Linked DNA regions of Homo sapiens. The protein of the gene in region 2 purifies or fractionates together with the protein of the main gene of each other region. This does not show direct contact. Each region holds a gene or a part of one and is shown on either strand. Other genes may lie near its edges.

Region 1 (3,225 bases), on a different chromosome or scaffold from region 2:
TATACTTCCCATTTAAGCAAAAGTTAATTTGGTTTTACAGATACAGATACCAGGTTCTGGCAGCTTGGAGAATAAGTGTAACAATTTGGTAAAACTTGTATAATTCTGACTGACCTATAATATTACAGAGTGAATTTCAAGTTATTGCTTTTTGATTACAGAATAAAAAATTCATTCTCTTGCAAAACTTTTATACAGAATGAGTAACCATTTCCTATTCAAGTAACAGCAATCAGAATCAGAAGTTCCTTACACAACAGTAGATGCTTGAGACATTTTTTGAATGGAGATGTGATTTCATTCTGTTCAAGAACTTATGCAGGAAACTGGGAGTGACTTAATTTTTCAAAAGTACAAGAAAATCAGCACCCCAACTGCTTAGTGCTCAGGAGGGTTTCTCAAGGGCTCTATAAAGCTCAGCTTGTGGTGAGTTCACACCCACCTTTAGAAGGATTCCCATTCTACTTATGCAGCCTTGTTTCAGAACACAAAGCTTGTATTAAAACATTAAAAGAGGATTAAAAGCAGTGTTGGTTTTTAACATTCAGAATTCACAGAGGATCTCATTTTCTGTAATTAAATGATCTATTTTGTGTTTTTTGCTGCAGAATCACATTCATATGGCAGTCATATTTCAGGCACTTTTAAAACATGTTCATCTGGAATAAAAATCTGCATGAACCACTTCTGCATAATTCAAAATGAGTGTTGAGTGATTCTAGTTCTCAAATAGATAGCAAATCACCACCTGGTGATTCGCTTTCTTCATCACAACATGACGGTGACTGCTGAGCTTGAGACATCTTTGAGGTGCCTTTCTGGCTTCAGTAAAAAGATGTGAGCCATAAAAATCCAAACTACTCAGTTTCTACTTAAAAAAATACAAAATGGTGAAATATACTAAATGTATTATACAGATGGTTTCAGCTACTATCAAAATAAATAACATAATCTGACTCAGAAGTCTGACTGAGCTTTTGGACGAAATCTGATGGAATGTCAAACGTGGAGACTCCCTCCTAGGGACTAGCTGCTGGTAGGCAAAAGTAACTCAACATCCTTACCATTTGCTACAACAGTATTGGAAGAGCAGCTGCTGGCAAGGTCTTCTGCAGTGGTCAAAGAGGCTGCCTGGGAATGAGTTTTGGTCAATGGAGTGGTAGCAGATGGAGAAGGGGTGAGGCCAGGTTTCTTGGGTGGGATGGGTGGAGGGTTTCCTCTCTCAGCTCTGGGGATGGTTGGGGACTTGATTCCTGGAGACAGGGGGCTCAGGGGACTGGACACTTTCCCTGGAGTAGGTGAATGGCTTGTGTCACCTCTTGGATTGGCAGTGTTGGCTAGATTTCGATAGTCTGTGCCAAAGGGAGAGCTGTTGGGAGAGACTGGCTTGATTGGCCCTTGTTGGCTAGTGAATCTGGAGAGCACCTGAGTGACTGTGTTTCGGGCCAGCTGCTTGGCGGCAGAGTTGTCTATGAGGGTGGGGGATAAATCCCTGGATGGAGGGCTCTGTAGGCCACTGGCTTGTTGGTCCTGATCTGCTTGGGACTGAAATTTGTGGCGAGCTGCATGGAACCGTTGGTTGATCCCTACTTGGTACGATGACTGGTAGCCAGGGCTGCTAGCTGATGACCCCAATAAACGCTTAGTGAGTACCGGCGAAGAGCAAGGAGAGGATGTTAGAGAGGAGGAGGCAGTGCTGCTGGGAGACAGTGAGCTCCCACTGGAAGAGAGGGGACTGGGCATTGGGACTGGAGTCTCAATCCCCACAGGACACCCACCATTCTCCACTGGTTTCTCTTGGGCCAATGCCACAGATTTTTCCCGTGGAGGCACCTGGTTTTCTACATTGTTGCCTGCAGTCAGCTCCCTGGTAGTTTGTATCTCTGGGTCACAATGGCCATTGGTTTTTGCATATGAGTAAGCAGGAGTGGCAGGACCAGGCAGCCCAGTGTTTGTCATCTTGGCTATGTTGCTCCCATGGGTTCTTTCTGCTGGAAAACTCTCTGTTTGGCAAAACACAGACATTAGCATGAGAGGCTCAGTTGCTGTGCCTTTGGACACGGTTACTGGTTTCTTCAATTGCTCATTAGGGCTACTGTGCTGGTGGGAAGCCTCTAGGTCCTTCACTATCTTCTTTAAACTTTCCATTTCTTCTTTCAGGGTTTTGGTCCGGTTCTCTTCTCGGTTCAGTTTTGCTCTCAGTTGTTCCCTTTCGATGTCAAACTCTGATAACTGCTTCTCTACCTGGGCCTCAGTCTGCAAGCCTCTCTTTCTCTCAGCTGCCAACTCTTCTTCCAGTTTACTCACCCGGCTCTTCTCCTTCTCCAATTTCAGGCTCAGCTCTCCTGCCTTCTGTCCTTCCTCGGCTGCCTTGTTGGTGGCTTTCTTGCACTCAAGCACTAGCATGGATGAGAGCTGCTTGTGGCGGGAGCGCTCCTCTTCCAGCTGACTAGAGAGCTTCTTCTGTTCTTTTTCAAACTTTTTCACTTGGGATTTTTCAAATTCCAACTAGAAAAAAAAAGAAAAGAGAGACATACTGACAAACTGTGATCAAGTAGACTGTCTTCGTTAGCTGTTCTCTGGTATACAGGATTAACATGCACATCACAGTGCTTAGATCAAGTATTTCTGAAATTTTAGAACACCTAACACAAAAAATGCACACACTATGATTTAATCTTTCTTTGATGATTTGGGAGGCACTTCTAGTTCCCATACTGTCTTGCAGTGATTAGTGGGAATATGACGTATCTTTGTGTTTCACGTATGTGGAGAGCATCAGAACCAATCAAAACAAGATAACAGAAAGCTGTATCAACCACATTTTGTGATGAATGTTGCTGAAAACAAACATTTTAAAGTTTCAGCAATAATTTTCTTGGGTCTCAGAAACAAACACACACAAATAGTTGCATTTGAATCATACTTTTTTTTGGAGACTGAGTTTCACTCTTGTCTCCCAGGCTGGAGTGCAATGGTGCAATATTGGCTCACTGCAACCTCCGCCTTCTGGGTTCAAGCGATTCTCCTGCCTCAGCCTCCCGGGTAGCTGGGATCAGTCATGCGCCACCACACCCGCCTAATTTTGTATTTTTAGTAGAGACAGGGTTTTTCCATGTTGGTCAGGCTGGTCTCAAACTCCTGACCTTAGGTGATCCACCCACCTCGGCCTCCAAAAGTGCTGGGATTACAGGCGTGAACCACTGTGCCCAGCCTGAATCATAT
Region 2 (3,308 bases):
TAGGTATCCATCACCTAGCCCCTGCACTGTGTTCAAGCGCACCGAGACAAGAGCGCGGGACGATTTCCTTCTATTCCTGCCCCAGGTGGAGACTCTTCTCTGTTCATCCACTATCCAAAAGGAACTGCTGAGCAGTCGTCCATTCCAGGCCTTTCTCTCATCCTCTGAGAATCTGGCTCTGGCACCACCCAGCTTCAATAGAATTACCTCCCCCAGAAGGAACTGCAGTTTCCCAAAGCCCAAAGGGCCCTGGCTCAGGGCATATACACTCGACTGCTGTCATCTAGAGCCCCAAACCCTCACCCATGTTTTATTTTCCTCTACTTCTTAGAGGACATGGCACCACCTTAATTTTAGGATTGTAGCCCCTAGACTTCACCACCCTATGGCAAAGGGGTGGGTCTGGCTTACCGAGCATCTCTACTACTAACCCAGGGTGTTCCGAATAACAGATGTTCAGTGCGTGTCTGAAGAAAAAATGAGCCAGTGAACAGGAAAAATTATTCTTTCAATTTTTATTTCTCTTACATGCTCAAAGAAGCCAAGCAAATCCAGGTATACATGTATATGTTTTAATTTTACAGGAGAGAGAAAGAGGTATAAGGCAAGAATTAACTACATTTTCATTTCACTATTTCTTTATGAGCTCTATTTTGCTGCTAAGTTCAAGTTTCAAAAAAATTATTAATTCCTCTGCTATGTTATCTTGTCCCAATTCACAAAATAACAGGGATTTCCCCATGTGACTCAAAAGCAAGAATCTTACTCCTAAATAACATAAACAGCAATATGTGTGACTACTGTCATTCATTAACTTCGATGGTGAAGTTCATTAAACTGACCATTAAAAGAACATTTGAACAATTCCAAAAGGGAGCAAGGATAAATCTCCAAATCACCCAATAGACAAGGAACCCAGAGATGACATACAGTGTGCTCACTTCCACCCACTGCCACTGAGAACACTGATTGCTCTCTTCAAACACAGAGCGAAGAATGGGCCTCATGTCACATGGGGCAGGGCAGCTGCTGGATGGGGCCCTGACCCCACAAACTTTGGCCCCGGCTGCGGCTGGTGCTCAGACTCCCTCTTGCTCCTCTCCCAAAACCTCTTCATAAAGGGATGGGTAGCAGATGGGCTCTCTTGCATTGAGCATGACCAAATAATTTATGACCTTCTCATAGCTGGTTTCAGCGTGGGCCTTGGAACCCCACAGGAACTCGTAGTGCGCAGGATCACTGCCGGGCACCTGCCGGTACTCCAGGTAGTTTTCCTGCACCCAATCTTGGGTGAGCAGCTTCCTGGGCTCCCCGTAGAACATGTGCTCCTTCCCAACATACACCCCCATCACACTCAACGCTTCCCAGATAACCTCTTCAGGGGCGCAGTTGTCTTTGGTTAGGATCACACCCAGGACAATGATCAGGAGGGCGGCCTTGGGCATGCTATGACCATCACCCAGCATGCTATCGCACGAGAGGCCAAGAGCAGTGACAAGGATGTAGGAGTGGCCGGCGGGGTCCACCTCCTTCACATCAGTGCCAAAGATCACCTGCATGAACTCGGAGGCTTTGCCGAAGATCACAGGAAAGTAGCGCTTGTAATTTTTGATGACGCTCTCCAGCATTTCTGCCTTTGTGACCGGCTCCTTGACTCGATATTTGTGGAGCAGGAAATGAACCAACTCAGCCACCTTCAATTTCAGTGCTTCTTGGAACATGAACTCCAGCTGAGCTGGGTCGACCGAGGAGCTTGGCTCTTCCTCTTCTTGACTGCTGGAGCCCTCATCGAATTGGCTCCATAAAGTGTAGTAGACGGAAATGGAGGAGGAAGCGCCTCCCTGAGGACTCTGGGGAGGACTTGATGACCCAGCAGCAGACACCTCCTCCTCCTTGCTGTCAGAGGAGGAGGTAGTCTCCTCCTCCTCGCCTGTGGGTTCCTGTGCACCCATCAGGCCCAAGTCCTCTCCTTGGGCTTCAAGGTCTTCATCAGGCTTGCAGTGCGGACTCCTCTGCTCGAGAGACATGATGACTCTGGTCAGGGCAGCAGTCAGGAGCGTGGGCAGGAGCTGGGCGATGGAGACCCACAGGCCTGGGGAGAGAGGGAGTGTGTGAGAGACTTCAGCTGAGAACCGAACCTTGGAGGTTCTAACAAAGGCTGACTTACAGGTCTTCGTCAGTGCTGCTCTGGGGCCTCTTGGGGCTCCTGTCCTCCTGGTTAGCCTGTCCCGAGAACCTGAGGGAGGAAGTGAGAGGGCTACTCAGCGTGCAGCTAGCCTGCAGAGATCAAGGCTCTATGAGTGACAGTAGGGGGAATGGGGCCAGGTGCTATGGGGTCCCATGTGTGCTGGGGCAGGTGGGGCCCTTGGTGCACATTCAGGGTGAACACTTCACCTTCACTGCTGACACTGCCTGGGTCTCCTCTGCTCTGCGACCTGAGGACACTGTCTCAGACCAAGGCCTGCCTGCTTCCTGGAGCTCCTGGAAGAGGAATCGAGGGGCCCTTAGGCTGCAGACTGCAGGCAGAGCCCCGGTCCCTCAGTGCTGTCAAGATGGCGGGCTGGACACTCTTGAGTTCTACACACTTTTGGGGTGGATGGTCCCCTCTGCGCTCACTCAGGGCCCTGACCTTTCTCCTGGCAGGGACTGGACTCTACTCCTCTACTTGCCTGAGAGTCTCTCAGATCAGGAGCTCACATCCCTGATATGGAACAGAAGGACATGCCCCAACCAACATCTGCCCACACCTGCCCAGGGTTTCCTCGGAAGTACAGTAAGAGATGTCTAAATTCAATGGGGTCCATGTGTCCTGGGGTGAGGATACTGCCTGGTCCTCATCTTGATGCCTGCAGGGTCTGGAACCCTCCCTCTGTTGACCTGAGGCCCTATCTCCAGGAGACACCTGAAGAGGAAGTGAGGGGAGTCCATCCACCCAGCGGCTTCCCTCAGCTGACACAAGGGGCAGGGTGGGGCTAGGTCCTCTGTGTTTGGTGAGTGGGGTCCCCTCAGTCTGCACCTGGACTCCTGGCAGGGCCTGGGACCCTCCCTCTGCTGACGTGAGTGCAGCCCCCTCAGACCAAGGCCAGCCCTCCCCGACACCAGTGATCCCAGGATAAAGGAGGGACCTCAGCAGACAGCCCTGCCCGGGCTCTCTGGGGTGACAGTAGGGGCAGGGCAAACTCTCTTGATCTGAGAGTTTCTCTGGCCTGGAGGTACCCTCGATCCTCCCTTAGGTTCCTCACCTGGACTGCTCTCCAATCCTGGGACCACTGTGTCTGTCGAACACAGGGCCTCCCTGTTTTGTCCAC
Region 3 (3,500 bases), on a different chromosome or scaffold from region 2:
ATCCAATTTAAGTAAACTTTTTCATGCTTCACAAGTGGAAAAAAAAATCTAAAATGTTAGTTGTTGTTTCATGAGGTAAAAACAAATAACTCAGGCCTGGTGCAGTGACTCACACCTGTAATCCCAGCACTTTGAGAGGCTGAAGTAGGCACTCTGCTCGAGCTCAGGAGTTCAAGACCACCCTAGGCAACATGGCGAAACCCTGCTTCTATTTTTCTAAAAAATTAATAATTAAAAAAACCACATATCACACACATAAATAAATAACTCCACTATTTATTATTCAATAAATAAAACATACATTTGGCTGGGAGTGGTGGCTCACGTCTATAATCCCAGTATTTTGGGAAGTCAAGGCAGGAGGATCACTTGAGCCCAGGAGTTCAGGACTAGCCTGGGCAAAACAGTGAGATCTCATCTCTAAATAACAAACCACACACATTTTCACAAAAATCCTTATTGAAAAATCTTAGGCAATGTTTTTCAGTTCATCTAAAAATTATTTTTAAGATTTAGTTGTATACTGGGAATAAAAGCTGCAGAAGAGAAAAATAATGAACAAGGACAATGCATACAAAAAATCAAAATATAAGCAGTATACTATCAAATACTCAAGGACAGCAGCATTTGATCTTATAAAGTTCCCAAATTTTTTAATAACTTATTTCAAAATCTATAATATAAAAAAGTATTTAATTCATTTATGTATGTATTTTTGAGACAGGGTCTTACTCTGTCACCCAGGCTGGAGTGCAGAGCACAGTGGTGCAGTCATGCTTCACTGCAGCCTTGACCTCCTGTGCTTAGGTGATCCTCCCACCTCAGCCTCCAGAGTAGCTAGGACTACAGGCGTGAGTCCCAGGCATGGCTGTGACTGGCCAAAAACCATTTTTAAAGGTTACTTTACCTTCATTCAAATTAGAAAACCACAGTCACCTAATTCACTGAGTTTTCAAAATGCAGCTAAGGTAGAAAAAATATGTGATTATTTAATCAGGTAGTGGCTCTCCAGAAAAAAACAGGGCAATTATTCTCATAAGAAAATTTAATACATATGCCAATTGCAAAATAATGTTAATTTCTATAATTGCCTAGATACTGTCAATTTAAATATCAAATGCCCAAATGTCAATGAAGGGTGACTAACCAGACAGTGTGGCACATGCCTATAGCCCCAGCTCAGGAGGCTACAGCAGGAGGATCACTTGAGCCCAGGAGTTCAAGGCTAATCTGGGCAACATAGTGAGACCTCATCTCTAAAATAAGTAAATAAATATGACAAAATTTACCATTTACTGTTTCAGAATTTTTCTTAATCTAAAAGGAAAAATCATCTTGATTTGTCAGTATTTTCATAGGCACACACTGTCTTTCCTTTCCACGTGGCTAATGATGATGAAAAACAGGAAGTCCTAAGAGACGGAAGGGTGGAGGGTATAATGGCAAAAAGTTTCCATCTCCAAAATGTTAAAGAGCAGGATCTCAAAACTAAGATAAAAACCATTTGGCCTGGCACAGTGGCTCACGCCTTTAATCCCAGCACTTTGGGAGGCTGAGGTGGGCGGATCACTTGAGGTCAGGAGTTTGAAACCAGCCTGGCCAACATAGTGAAACCCTGTCTCTACTAAAAATACAAAAAATTAGCTGGGTGTGGTGGCACACGCCTGTAATCTCAGCTACTTGGGAGGCTGAGGCAGGAGAATCACTTGAACCCAGGAGGTGGAGGTTGCAGTGAGCTGAGATCTCGTACCACTGCACTCCACCCTGGGCGACAGAGCAAGACTGTCTCAAAAAGGATAAAAACAATTTAAGAAATCTCAAGCTATTATAAGACTTCAGAATTCTGCTAATGATGTGTTCTTTAACGAATATTACAAACAATTATTTCAAATGCTTAAAAAACAAAATTATTCCCTGAGAGGATATATAATTTCCCCCATGAGAATGATTCCTACATAAAGGAAAGCCTGTATTCATGTGAATCTTGAAGGCCCTAAACTGGAAAGGTTACATAACAGTATCAAGACATACATATATTAAGTTAGAATTTCTCATTAAGCATATAATGCTTTTAAAGCCCAGTTAAACCTTATCAGGGCTTTTTAAAAACTGAAGATTACTGCACTATCAATTACTCTTCCTAAAATAACTACAATAAATTTGCTAAGACTCACTTGTAGAAACCAAGCAATGTATTTTCTCTTATCCAACTAAAAGGGTGCCAATAAACAGCTATCTAGTTTTAAATACAAACAAAAAACATTATTATTTTCTTATAGAACATCCACACATCTCTCACAGAACAAGTAACATCCAGTAACTATACCCCTTCCCCAATTCTGTCTTTGATCCTCTAACACTCCCCATAGTCCCTACATTGTGCCAGGTCTATCATGACTATATTTGACAGAGGGAGTTTGTTCACTGACCAGGTAATTTAAAATTTCTTCATACTATAAAGGTTGAGAAGAGGGCATGTTTCCTGTATTAAATTACACTGAATATTAATTAGGCCTTCAGGCTAATTTAGCTATTAATGTAGATATAACACACAGCAGCTAAAGTAGTATTTAGGGAAGTTTATTAGAGCACAGAGGTCAAGACAGGAACAATGATGGGTCTGACTGATCCCCATGGAGGTTAACTGGCTTTAGAGTTACCTTTGTTACAGCAGCTCTGAACCACTGACGGTTCTACGTAAATCACCACCCTTGTTGCAAAAACAACTTGAAGCACGTATGGAGACAGTATGTCAGTTGCTTTATATAAAAACTGCCATCTTTCCTTTTAAATTCCCCTAAACCACCATACACAAGTTAATCTTTTACTTTACTCAGGCTCCCAGCATTCTACAGCCATAAAACCTACTCTCTTCCTTTCTAAATTTTGCTCAAAGATTTGATCTTTCCCTTGGTAAGAAACACCATGATATAAAGAAGCACATTTATAAAACTCTTAGCCTTACCTGAAACTGACTCAGAAAATAACTCTGCAACAACAGGTACTCTACCTGTTCACAATAAAGTTCAATCTTCTTGAAGGTCCTCAAGTTCTCCCTACAATTTAGTCGACAGAAACTCATACTGTGCCTTGACACACTGTTGACGTGCAGATGTAAATAACTAGTAACAATGACACGCCAGGAAATGACTGAACACTATTCATCTTATGAGCCTCATTAAACAAGCATGGGGCTCAACGTTAACACAGTCAACACTAAGAGAAAGAGGCTGGGCATGGTGGCTACGCCTGTAATCTCAACACTTTGAGAGGTTGAGGTGGATCATTTGATCCCAGGAGTTCAGGGCTCCGGGACTGCCACTGCACTCCAGCCTGGGCAATAGAATGAGAATCTGTCTCAAAACAAACAAAACAAAACAAAAACACTAAAAGGAAGAGACTTAGAACTCTCTTCCTGCATAGAAACTTCTCAAATTAAATACCGCAGTACTTCAGGAAGAGGAGTTTTTAATTTACCCCACAGAATCAGACTCTCAGTG
Region 4 (2,215 bases), on a different chromosome or scaffold from region 2:
CAGCCTGGCCAACGTGGCGAAACCCCATGTCTACTAAATACAAAAAATTAGCCGAGTATGGTGGCGGGCGCCTGTAATCTCAGCTACTTGGGAGGCTGAGGCAGGAGAATTACTTGAACCAGGGAGGCAAAGGTTGTAGTGAGTCAAGATCGTGCCACTGCACTCTAGCCTGGGTGACAGAGCAAGACTCCATCTCAGAAAAAAAAAAAGAGAAACTAGTGCCTAGACCAAACTGTGTCCGTGTTCATGGGATTGGAATGAGGACATGAGATTCATGAACCATTTAGATATACAAGCATGAAAATCTTACAAGGTACCCCCCAAAATATGTACTCTCTCTCTATATATATATGTTTTTGAGACAGAGTCTCACTCGTCACCCAGGCTGGAGTTTAGTGGTGCAATCTTGGCTCACTGCAGCCTCCGCCTCCTGGGTTCAAGCGATTCTCCTTCCTCAGCCTCCTGCGTACCTGGGATTACAGGTGCGTGCCACCATGCCTGGCTAATTTTTTGTATTTTTAGTAGAGATGGGGTTTTACCATGTTGGCCAGGCTGGTCTTGAACTCCTGATCTTAAGTGATCCGCCTGCCTCAGCCTCCCAAAGTGCTGGGATTACAGGTGTGAGCCACCATGCCCAGCCTATATATCTGGTTGGTTTTTGTTTGTTTGTTTGTTTGTTTGTTTTGGGGGGGGATGGAGTTTCGCTTTTGTCCCCCAGGCTGGAGTGCAACGGCACCATCTCGGCTCACCACAACCTCCACCTCCCAGGTTCAAGCAATTCTCCTGCCTCAGCCTCCCAAGTAGCTGGGATTACAGGCATGTGCCACCACGCCCAGCTAATTTTGTATTTTTAGTAGAGACGGGATTTCTCCATGTTGGTCAGGCTGGTCTCGAACTCCCTACCTCAGGTGATCCTCCCGCCCCGACCTCCCAAAGTGCTGGGATTACAGGCGTGAGCCACCACGCCCAGTCGTATATCTATTATTTAAAAAGAATCATTTGACCGGGCGCAATGGCTCACGCCTGTAATCCTGTCACTTTGGGAGGCTGAGGCGGCCACATCAACTAAGGTCGGGAGTTTGAAACCAGCCTGGCCAACATGGTGAAACCCCGTCTCTACTAAAAATACAAAAATTAGCCAGGCATGGTGGCAGGCATCTGTTATCCCAGCTACTTGGGAGGCTGAGGCAGGAGAATCACTTGAGCCCAGGAGGCGAAGGTTATAGTGAGCCGAGATGGTGCCACTGCACTCCAGCCTGGGCAACAGAGCAAGACTGTCTCAAAAATAAAATAAAATAATCATTTGGCCAGGTGCAGTGAGTCATGCCTGTAATCCCAACACTTTGGGAGGTCAAGGAAGGAAGATCACTTGAGCTCAGGAGTTCGAGACCAGCCTGGGTAACATGGCCCCATCTCTACAAAAAATAAAAATAAATAAATATCCCAAAGGTGGTGTGTGCAGCAAAAATTATAATAAAAAGAACTGAGGGTAGGGATAGCATTAGGAGATATACCCAATGTAAATGACAAGTTAATGGGTGCAGCACACCAACATAGTTCATGTATACATATGTAACAAACCTGCACGTTGTGCACATGTACCCTAGAACTTAAAGTATAATAATAAAAAAAGAAAGAAAGAAAGAAAAAAACCATTTAGGGAGCAGAATTGAGGAGGATTTGGTGACAAGTACGGTGAAAGAATAAAGTCACTCGGGCTGGGCGCGGTGGCTTATGCCTATAATCCCAGCACTTTGGGAGGCCAAGGCAGGCAGATCACAAGGTCAGGAGATCAAGACCATCCTGGCCAACATAGTGAAACCCTGTCTCTACTAAAAAATAAAAAAAAATAGCCTGGTGTGGTGGCGCGTACCTGTAGTCTCAGCTACTCGGGAGGCTGAGTTGTATACCTATTATTTAAAAAGAATCATTTGACCGGGCGTGATGGCTCACGCCTGTAATCCTAGCACTTTAGGAGGCTGATGCAGGCAGATCAACTAAGGTCGGGAATTTGAGACCAGCCTGGCTAACAAGGTGAAATCTTGTCTCTACTAAAAATACAAAAATTAGCCAGGCATGGTGGCAGGCACCTGTAATCCCAGCTACTTGGGAGGCTGAGGCAGGAGAATCACTTGAACCCGGGAGGCGGAGGTTGCAGTGAGCCGAGATCACGCCACTGCACTCCAACCTGGCGACAGAGCAAGACTCCGTCTTA
Region 5 (2,741 bases), on a different chromosome or scaffold from region 2:
CTGGTGGTTGTCTGTCAGTCAGGATCAACTAAATTAAGCCCTAATAACACAACTTTATTGTATTAACACACTGAGATTTAGCAGTTGTTTATTACGCTACATGCCCAAAGGACAGCAGGGGAGTTCTCTTCAACAAAGTCACTTAAGGATCTGGAATGAGAGGTTTCATCTCAACATATACTTCTATGATCACACAGGCAAGAAAAGGAAATATGGCAAATTAAAGACTGGCCCTTAAAGTTCCACTCAGAAGTGACATATATCCCTTTGCACTGGTTTCTTCGGGCAAAGCAAGTCATATAACTAGCTTCAGAATTTTTTTTAAACAATGTACTTAGTAATGTAGTTTTCACCAGAAAAAAAAATGTAGCATGAATTTGTAATTATGTATTTTGCCCTGAATTATCTTGGCTCCCTACTTCACTTTAGAAGAGACGTATCAACCTAAAAGCAGAGGTTTATACTGCACAAATAAAGAGTCAAAAACCAAGACAAAGGTATGCAGTTGCAAAATGGCCATTTATTGCCTACAGGGGAAGGAAAGGGAGGGAGAGAGGGGAAGTACACAGGTGCAAGGAAACAAGCATATATTTAGCCCTATACATCATGTGTGAGCAGTAACCAATCTCCAAAATGGAAAAAAATATTTTGTTATCTGACATAGTAGTTAAGGTTCTTAAGCACCTCCCTTCTGAGCTGCCACAAGATTTAAAAGGCAGGACTGCTTTTTTTTAGTCAATGTTCACATTAATGAAAAAATACTACCAACCGTGTCCTTTTGCACGCACACTTTGTACAGTGTCTATTGTGAAAAACATCTCAGCTGAGCAGTTTTGGTCAAGATTCAGACCTCATCAACTGTTTAACTGTAATAAATAGAAAAATAAAGCAGCTGGTGATTTTGTCAGAGAGAATGTGTTCAGTAAGAGTAGAACCACTTTCTCCAGGGATGGCAGAGAGTGTTAAATGGTTAAAACACCTACAGAACCAGTCTATTAAACATTAAACACTAGCAAGCTACAATTACATGGCACTTCATTAAATAGTCTAATTTAAAAAAAAATCTTAGATTTTAAACTGATTACTGAAACACAAAAACAAGTTGATTTAGTCCTTGGCTTTTTCTTAGAACAAAAGCAAAGTAAATATACAACCTAAAACAGCAGAATTTGTTTTGGAATAGTATCAATGGAAACTACCAAGTATTCAGGGAAAAAGTTACTAAAACACCTTGCTTGGTTTTACAGTCATGTGCTTTGCTTTGCAACCATTAGAATTAGATAGTTACAAAAACACTTTATAGGTCACAGAATGACTCAAATGTATGCAAAATAATGAATTCTTTAACTTAATGCCAGGTAATGAAAATAAATGAACCTTTCCCTACTCAAAACGATAAATTGAGTGGAAAAGTAGATTGTCCCATGGACAATTAGTTGGCACTTGTTATATAGTTGAAAAAAATCACAACAGAAGATATAAATTAATCGATGGTGAATTTGACCAACACCCTGGCCCTTATAGAGAGAAAAAGTACATACACACTCTCTTTAAAAAAAAAAAAAAAAAAAAAAAAAAAAAAAAAAAAAGCCCTCCATACTTCCCCACTCCAGAGACAACAAAGCCAAAGATGAAACATTCAACCTTCTCAAAATATTCCAAGTAGTTCTATTGAACTCTGTATCTCAGCTTCTCCAAGATGAAAAAGTTGTTTGCATTTGGACAACAACTGTACGAATGCCCATAGTGCACATCTCAGTGCTGCTGGTGTTTAAGAAATTTGTCACTCATAACCCTGAACAATTCCAGATCCAGTGTGCAGTAACACAGCCATCCAAATCCCTCCCCTTGAAAAGTTGGCAGAGCACCGCTCAGGAATTTCACAGGTAAGGGAATATATTTTTAGCAAGTTAAGCACAGAGAAAGGACAGTACAGTTTCTAAGTAAATACAGACCCAGATACTGCATCACTTACTGCATCAAGATTGAAACAAGCAGCAGGATACTAAGTCTGTTTGGTAAGAAGCAAAGCCATTGTTTGACATCAATGCTGAACCAATTTTGTGACTTCAGATAACTACAAACTAAATTAAATTGGTACATATAACAATTGATAGCTTGAAAGACAATACATCAGTGATTTGAAGTTAATACGAAACTGAAATGAGCAAGAAAGGACCACTTCTGAGAGGGTTACCATGATTCTTACGCTTTAGAGTTAAAAGTGACAGACATACAACTGGAAAATTATCTAAATTTTGAGAGATTGTTCTAACAAAAATAACTAGTACTAGGCACCAAACTAGAGCCTCCGAAAGATTCTGAAAGCTGAATGGACCATGCTACCACCATGCCAAAAGAGTCATATCACTTGGCATTTGTATATCCTTTCCATAATGTGATTTGTTTCTGATGACATACTTCTAAAATGCAGTTCAATGCTACTCAGTTTATACAATGTACCATAAAAAAAAATTAACAATTAATAAGCACAAATGTCCTTATGTCATAGGCTTTGAAAGTGAAAACTATTTTACTTAAAAAATATTCTATTACTTCAATGTCATGTCTGTTGAACGAAGAACTCAACATGCTTATTTTCCTTTGGTTCCAGGAAAAACCCAAGTCTAACCAAATGTATGCCACAAGGAACTGCCAACTGGGTTAAAGCTTGGTATTTTCCTGGTTATCACCCTATTTCCTGGTGTAGGACCTGGGGTTTAATAGAGACATTTACATAA
Region 6 (3,500 bases), on a different chromosome or scaffold from region 2:
TTTGACCTACTCTTAGCAGTTGATTTGTGCCTCCGGAAATCTCTCGCCATCCCCCAGCCCTTTCTCCCAACTTCCTTTAAGAGAAACACACAAACCCCTCCATCTAGCGCCTCGGGTCCCTTGAGAACTATATTACAGAATCCCTTGGCTGGGTTGGCATTCTCACTGGGGACAAATTTGGGAGCGATTCTCAGAGCCTCAAGCTAGAGGGAGGGGAATGAGGTCCCAGAAAAGAAAAGGAAGCAGGGAGACAGCTGACGCTGAAGATTCCTTCTCAGAGGAATGCGAGGCGGGGCTTTGCCTTGGCAAACGAGACCGGATGCGGGTCCCCGGGTCCCCCTTCCCCCCACGTGTATGCACACTCACACTCACACACATGTACGTGCACACACACACATTCACATACACATGCAGATGCACACACCAGACTCTCCGTTCAGTCCTGTGGCCCACGTCCCCACACATGACCGTGTTTGAAGGACACAGAAGGGTAGACCCGGAATTTGAACACGCCCTTTGCTGCAACGAGATGCGTTGCCTTCCAGGAGAATTGATTTAAACTGTGCCATGTGTCAGTGACACCGGAGGCTGTGGGCTTTGCATTTGCAGTCCTGGCTTTTGATCGCATTGAGAGGTGAAGGCCGGCTGGCATTCCATTTATTTCCTATGTCGCGGATGGCTGAAGGCCCGGGACGGGAAGGAGGCAGCCCTGTCATGTCCCTGTGCTCAGGATTAGGGATGTGTTGCTTTTTCCTGACTTTCTGCTGTCAGGCGGTCCTAAGCACCCACCACCTCCCGATCACAGCCCCCCACACCCGGAGTTGTAACTACCTGGCATGTGTCTGCCCCTGCATCGACTGGAAGCTCTGTGGGGGCCGGCTCCAACTCTGGCTTCGTCTCCCACTGGCAGATCCCAGCCAGGACCTGGCCAAGGTCCATGCTGAGTAAATACTCATGCAGCAGGGAGGCCTCTGTGTCTGGCTGCTGTGAGCTAGTAGGCCTCCAGGAGGATGGGACAGAAGACGGACAACACAGACCACGTCCAGGGATTCGGCTGTTTGTGGAGGGGAGGGCCTGCACTTGGAATCAGAAGGCCTGGGCCAAAGTTCAAAGTTTGAATGAACCCCCAAGCCTGGCAGTGCAGGGTGCTGGGGCCCCAGGGCAGGAGTTAAAAGCCGAGTGAGCTTGGGCTAGTCACTGCCTCTCGAGCCTCAGTTTCTTCATCTGTAAAACAGGGATGCTAAGCTCTGTGTCCGGAGGTTGTGGAAGAAGTAGACAGGCTCGCCTAGCTACAGCACAGGGCGTGTAAACAGTCAAGTTCAGAATGATTTCACAGGGCAGAGAGTGGGTGCCCTACAGAGGCAGATCTGTGCTGGCCCTGTGGGGTGGGCAGAGGTTGAGAACCAAGCTGGAAACTGGGAGAGGGTGTCCCGTGCCCTTTGCTGGCAGCATCTGTGAGTTGCACAGCCCTTTGAGCATTGCCAGACTGTGAGGTGTTTAGAAAATTCCAGGCCAGATGGGAGACTGCTGAAGGTTTGTGATGTTGCCGCCGCCTGCCCACGAGGGGAGTGTCCTCCCACCCACACTGGGCACCGGGTGCTTGGCTTCCTGAGCAGGATGTGGTTTCTCATTCTAGACCTGGTACAAGAGAGGGTAGTTTTCACCCAACAGTAAACCTGGCAAATGGCAATGCCTGGTTCTCTGGAGGGTCCGTGGAGCCCAGGTCCTGGTCTGGGTTTGCCTGCGATGTGGTCTGAGCTTCACTATGCCCACGTGGGAATGGGGACAGTGGGAAGGTGGGCTTGCCCAGCAACCCTATGAAGACTACGTTCTCTCCGTAATGTAGCACAACTCTGTGCATGCCATTTAATCTCTTGCACCTCAGTTTGTCGCTCTGTACAATGGGGGTGTGGTTTCTTACGAGTTCTGCTTCCCAGGGTTGAGGTAAAAGTCAATTAAAACAGTGCAGTAGGAAAACATTTTGCAAAAGGATTTGAAAATAAATCAATATGGCTTAATGCTTCCGTTTATTGAGCACCTACTTTGTGCTAGGTGCAGTGATGACTTCTTTAAATATGTGATAATTATGGGAGCAGTCCCAAGCAGTGGGAAGTGATTATGCTCATTTTACAAATGAGAGGTTCAGAGAGGTGAAGACTTCTGTCCCAGATCTCGCCACGAGTCCGTCTGGGTCTCTGGACCCCAAGGTCAGTGCTCCTCCCAGGAGGTGGCCTTGTCCCATGCCCCTGGAGGTTGCCAAAGGCTGGCTCAGGGTGAGGAGGCAGGCAGGAGGCACGGGGTCTCCCCAGCACCTGTCACAATATTGCCATGGCGGGTGGCAGAATAGGAGGCGGCTGCTGCGCTGGGAAGACTCCCTGCTGTCACTTTACAGAAATTATTTCTTGAGAAGCAAATGAATCACTGGCAGTAGCAGGCAGATGAGGCTCCCGGGCCACTGTAGCAGGCCTGTCCAGGCCCCTGCTCTTTGGAGAAGGTCTCAATGGGGGCTGGCAGGGCTGGCAGGGGAGGAGTTGGGGAACAGGGAACACATATTATGACCCGTCTGGTGATTTCCACGCGGTCTCATTTAAACCCGGTGGTGGCACTGCAGGATGGAAACCGAGGCTCAGAGAGGAGAAGTAACTTGGAAGTCAGGCTCCAGATCCAACCTTTATCCTGTGCTGTACCCAGAAAGGGCCATGCCCATTGCAAGCCGCTTTCCTGCTGTGAGCCTCAGTTTTCATTTCTGTGAAATGTTGCCTAGCAAAGCTGGGGCAGGCTGTGGATCTCAGGCTCTCAATTAATGCTCCATTTATCTTGCCCGGCCCCTGAGTGTCCTCAGGGCACAGCCAGCCCGAGGTTCTCATCCACGGATCACCAGCAGCAGAGGGCCTCGGGCATTCTGGTGGCTGTTTGGGAGCTCGCCTCCGCCCTGGGCTGGAGTATCCCTAGCTTTTGCTTTCAGTCAGTGCTGTGAACTTTGCCAGGGAACAGGGAAGTTGTTACAATCGTTTGGTGCCTCTTGTTGGGGAAGATGAGACTGCTGGGTGTGGATGTCTGAGAAGCCAAAGTGGTGGTGGTTTCAGAACAGTGGCTGAGTACCCACCGTGGGCCAGGCCCCTGCCCTCGAGAACTCAGAATCTGGGGACATAGACAAATGTGTCATGCCATGTGGCAGCATCATGTGACAACAGCATGTGCCCAGTACCTTCTCCAACAGTGCTTGCGGATAGTAGGAACACAATAAACATGTGTTAGTTAATGAATTTCATTAAATATTTATACAACATTTACTCTTTGCCAGGCTTCATTCAAAGTGGTTTGCAAACATTTAATTCATGGAAGCTGTAATAACCCTGTGAGTTGGGTGCTATCATTAGCCCATTTTAGAGATGCTAAAACTGAGCCACAGAGGCAGGGGAGGGAACTGGGCCAAGACACCTTGAAAGTGGCAAGCCCAGGCCCGGTGCGGTAGCTCATGCCTGTAATCCCAGCACTTT
Region 7 (3,500 bases), on a different chromosome or scaffold from region 2:
CCTCCCAAGTAGCTGGGGTTACAGGCGACTGCCACCATGCCCGGCTAATTTTTTGTATTTTTAGTAGAGACAGGGTTTCACCATGTTGGTCAGGCTGGTCTTGAACTCCTGACCTCAAGCGATCCGCCCACCTCAGCGTCTGAAAATGCTGGGATTACAGGCATGAGCACTGTGCCCAGCCTATTAACTTATTATTATGGTAATTCTCTTTAATGTCCAATTTTCCTTCCCTCTCTCCTTCTGATATAATTATACCGTAATTTTTGGTTGATAGTATTTACATTATTGACTAAGTATTGTTTACTGCATGGAAGTGTATTATGTTTGTCCCTTTCTTATGCTTGGTTTTGCCTTGAGTTAATAATTGCTTTATTTTATTTATTTATTTTGAGACAGAGTCTCACTCTGTCACCCAGGCTAGAGTGCAGTGGTACGATCTTGGCTCACTGCAACCTCCATCTCCCAGGTTCAAGCAATTCTCCTGCCTCAGCCTCACGAGTAGCTGGGATTACAGACAGCAGCAACCACGCCCAGCTAATTTTTGTGTTTTTAGTGGAGACAGGGTTTTACCATGTTGGCCAGGCTGGTCTTGAACTCCTGACCTCAAGTGATCCGCCTACCTCCACCTCCCAAAGTGCTGGTATTATAGGGGTGAGCCACCACACCTGGCCTTCTCCAGATTTTTTAGTTCTGTTTATGTGTTTGGGCTGCTCTCTTTCATGTACACAACTTCCTTTAAGTATCTAGCGAACTTTGGTTTTCTGTTGACTTCTTTGCGTTTTTGGTTTTGGAGACAGGGTCTTACTCTGTCACCCAGGATGGAGTGCAGTGGCACTATAATCGCTCACTGTAGCCTCCACCTCCCAGAGGTGATCCTTCCACCTCAACCTCCCAAGTAGCTGGGACTATAGGTGTACACTACCACACCCAGCTTATTTTCAATTTTTTTGGAGACGTGGGATCTCCCTATGTTGCTTCCCTGTGTTGCCTAGACTGGTCTTGAACTCCTAGGCTCAAGTGATCCTCCCACCTCAACCACCCAAAGTGTTGGGATTACAGGCATGAGCTGCCATGCCCAGCCTGTTACATTTTTAAATGAGGCACTAGGTCGGGCATGGTGGCTCACGCCTGTAATCCCAGCACTTTGGGAGGCTGAGGCGGGCGGATCACTGAGGTCAGGAGTTTGAGACTAGCCTGGCCAACATGGTGAACCTGTCTCTACTAAAAATAAAAAAATTAGCTGGGCGTGGTGGCATGCACCTGTAATCCCAGCTACTCAGGAGGCTGAGGCAAGAGAATCGCTTGAACCCAGGAGGCGGAGGTTGCAGTGAGCCGAGATCGTGCCACTGCACTCCAGCCTGGGCGACAAGAGTGAGACTCCATCTCTAAATAAATAAATAAGGCGCTAAAACACTTAACTGGAAGATTTGTGTGTACACAGTTAATTTTATTGCCTGGCTGATTCTGGTGGTGATTAAGACTTGAACTGCTGGACACGGTGGCTCACGCCTGTAATCCCAGCACTTTAGGAGGCCGAGGTGGGTGGATCACCTGAGGTTGGGAGTTGAAGACCAGCCTGACCAACATGGAGAAACCCCGTCTCTACTAAAAATACAAAATTACCCAGGTGTGGTGGCACATGCCTGTAATCCTAGCCACTCGGGAGGCTGAGGCAGGAGAACCACTTGAACCCTGGAGGTGCGGGTTGTGGTAAGCCGTGATAGTGCCACTGCACTCCAGCCTGGTAACGAGCAAAACTCCGTCTCAAAAAAAAAGAAAAGATTTGAACCAGCCTTTTGGTTTGGTGAATTCTCAAATATCAATGTCTGTTAGTTCTCAGAAGAATCAGTTTTCCACCTAAGAGAGTAATATGGCTACCCACTAGCGTTCTGGGAACAAAATGGTAAGAGAGGCTGTGCCAGGGAGTGTCATCTTTTATTTTATTTTATTTATTTATTTATTTTTATTTTTTCTTTTTATTTATTTTTGAGACAGAGTCTCACTGTGTAGCCCAGGCTGGAGTGCAATGGCGTGATCTCGGCTTACTGCAACCTCTGCCCCCCAGGTTCAAGCGATTCTCCTGCCTCAGCCTCTCGAGTAGCTGGGACTACAGGCACGTGCCACCATGCCCGGCTACTTTTTTGTATTTTTAGTAGAGATGGGGTTTCACTGTGTTAGCCAGGATGTTCTCGATCTCCTGACCTTGTGGTCCGCCCACCTCGGCCTCCCAAAGTGCTGGGATTACAGGCATGAGCCACCGCGCGTGGCCCAGGAGTGTCATCTTTTAAAATACATATCTTAATTCCCATTTTCATTTTTATTATAGATTTATTAATTTTCTTGATTGGGAAATACATACTTAGGGCCAACAACTTAAAGGCTACAAAAAGCATATAGAGTGAAAAGATAGTCTGTCTTAGCTGGGCATTATGGGCATTATGTGATTATGGCTCACACCTATAATCCCAGCACTTTGGAAGGCCGAGGCAGGTGGATCACCTGAGGTCGGGAGTTTGAGACCAGTCTGGCCAACATGGCGAAACTCGTCTCTACTAAAAATACAAAAATTAGCCAGGCATGATGGCTCACGCCTGTAGTCCCAGCTACTCAGGAGGCTAAGGCAGGAGAATCACTTGAACCTGGGAGATGGAGGTTGCAGTGAGCTGAGATCTTGCTACTGCACTCCAGCCTGGGTGAGAGAGCAAGAGTCTGTCTCAATAGAAAAAAAAAAGATAGTCTGTCTCCTTCACTTTGTCCCCTCAACCAGCCAGTTTTCTTTCTCAGGAGCATTTGCTTTGTTAATCTGTTGTGTGGTCTTTCTACCTAGGCATATGTACATGTCTTCATGCATATGTATATGTATTTTTTGTTGTTTTCACAAAATCGTAGCATATTATACACACTGTTCCTCTGTACCTTTTTTTAAAAAAAAAACTTAATCTGTGTTTGCTTTGCTTTTGGAGGCCATGCTTTTTTTTTTTAAGTTTGTGGGTTTGTTCCGATGGTTACCTTAAAAGCTATGATTTTATATATAATATAATATGCTCACTGACTTCCCTCAAGTAACAATTACTAAATTAGTTTTACTTTCATTTCCTTTTCTCCCCCGACTTTCTTTATTTTCCAGATTTAATGGTTATATTGTTTTTATTAGTATTTATGTTTATACCCTTAAATTGTTTATTTTTTTATTTTTGAGACAAGTTCTCTCCCTCTTTCTTAGGCTGGAGTGCAGTGGCATGATCACAGCTCGCTGTAGCCTCGACCACCTGGACCCAAGTGATCTTCCTGCCTCAGCCTCCTGTGTAGCTGGGACCACAGGCATGTGTCACCACCCCTGGCTAATTTATTATTTTTTTTTGTAGAGATGGGGGTCTCACTATGTTGCCAGGACTGGTCTTGAACCCCAGGGCTCCAGTGATCTTCCTGCCCCAGTCTCTCAAAGTGTTCATATTATAGTCATGAGCCACTGAGCCTGGCCGATTTAATTTAATATCTTT

The links.
Region 1: the proteins of MAGEA9 (region 2) and CTTNBP2NL purify together in Homo sapiens (affinity purification with mass spectrometry, with the first as the bait; one large-scale study listed by BioGRID). This does not show direct contact.
Region 3: the proteins of MAGEA9 (region 2) and CNST purify together in Homo sapiens (affinity purification with mass spectrometry, with the first as the bait; one large-scale study listed by BioGRID). This does not show direct contact.
Region 4: the proteins of MAGEA9 (region 2) and KIF2C purify together in Homo sapiens (affinity purification with mass spectrometry, with the first as the bait; one large-scale study listed by BioGRID). This does not show direct contact.
Region 5: the proteins of MAGEA9 (region 2) and CNOT6L purify together in Homo sapiens (affinity purification with mass spectrometry, with the first as the bait; one large-scale study listed by BioGRID). This does not show direct contact.
Region 6: the proteins of MAGEA9 (region 2) and IFFO2 purify together in Homo sapiens (affinity purification with mass spectrometry, with the first as the bait; one large-scale study listed by BioGRID). This does not show direct contact.
Region 7: the proteins of MAGEA9 (region 2) and MTO1 purify together in Homo sapiens (affinity purification with mass spectrometry, with the first as the bait; one large-scale study listed by BioGRID). This does not show direct contact.

The regions. Positions count from the first base shown.
Region 1 is NC_000001.11:112,455,214-112,458,438, reverse strand, and holds part of CTTNBP2NL (CTTNBP2 N-terminal-like protein), read right to left. Parts: intron 2,509-3,225; coding exon 1,027-2,508; 3' UTR 1-1,026. UniProt on the Homo sapiens protein: Regulates lamellipodial actin dynamics in a CTTN-dependent manner. Associates with core striatin-interacting phosphatase and kinase (STRIPAK) complex to form CTTNBP2NL-STRIPAK complexes.
Region 2 is NC_000023.11:149,784,930-149,788,237, reverse strand, and holds the end of MAGEA9 (melanoma-associated antigen 9), read right to left. Parts: intron 2,482-3,308; 5' UTR 2,395-2,481; intron 2,237-2,394; 5' UTR 2,168-2,236; intron 2,093-2,167; 5' UTR 2,028-2,092; coding exon 1,080-2,027; 3' UTR 501-1,079; downstream 1-500. UniProt on the Homo sapiens protein: Not known, though may play a role in embryonal development and tumor transformation or aspects of tumor progression.
Region 3 is NC_000001.11:246,569,456-246,572,955, reverse strand, and holds part of CNST (consortin), read right to left. Parts: intron 3,088-3,500; exon of another isoform or gene 3,083-3,087; coding exon of another isoform or gene 2,966-3,082; intron 1-2,965. UniProt on the Homo sapiens protein: Required for targeting of connexins to the plasma membrane.
Region 4 is NC_000001.11:44,763,837-44,766,051, forward strand, and holds part of KIF2C (kinesin-like protein KIF2C), read left to right. Parts: intron 1-2,215. UniProt on the Homo sapiens protein: In complex with KIF18B, constitutes the major microtubule plus-end depolymerizing activity in mitotic cells. Regulates the turnover of microtubules at the kinetochore and functions in chromosome segregation during mitosis.
Region 5 is NC_000004.12:77,712,887-77,715,627, forward strand, and holds the end of CNOT6L (CCR4-NOT transcription complex subunit 6-like), read right to left. Parts: 3' UTR 501-2,741; downstream 1-500. UniProt on the Homo sapiens protein: Has 3'-5' poly(A) exoribonuclease activity for synthetic poly(A) RNA substrate.
Region 6 is NC_000001.11:18,946,677-18,950,176, reverse strand, and holds part of IFFO2 (intermediate filament family orphan 2), read left to right. Parts: intron 1-3,500.
Region 7 is NC_000006.12:73,468,237-73,471,736, forward strand, and holds part of MTO1 (5-taurinomethyluridine-[tRNA] synthase subunit MTO1, mitochondrial), read left to right. Parts: intron 1-3,500. UniProt on the Homo sapiens protein: Component of the GTPBP3-MTO1 complex that catalyzes the 5-taurinomethyluridine (taum(5)U) modification at the 34th wobble position (U34) of mitochondrial tRNAs (mt-tRNAs), which plays a role in mt-tRNA decoding and mitochondrial translation.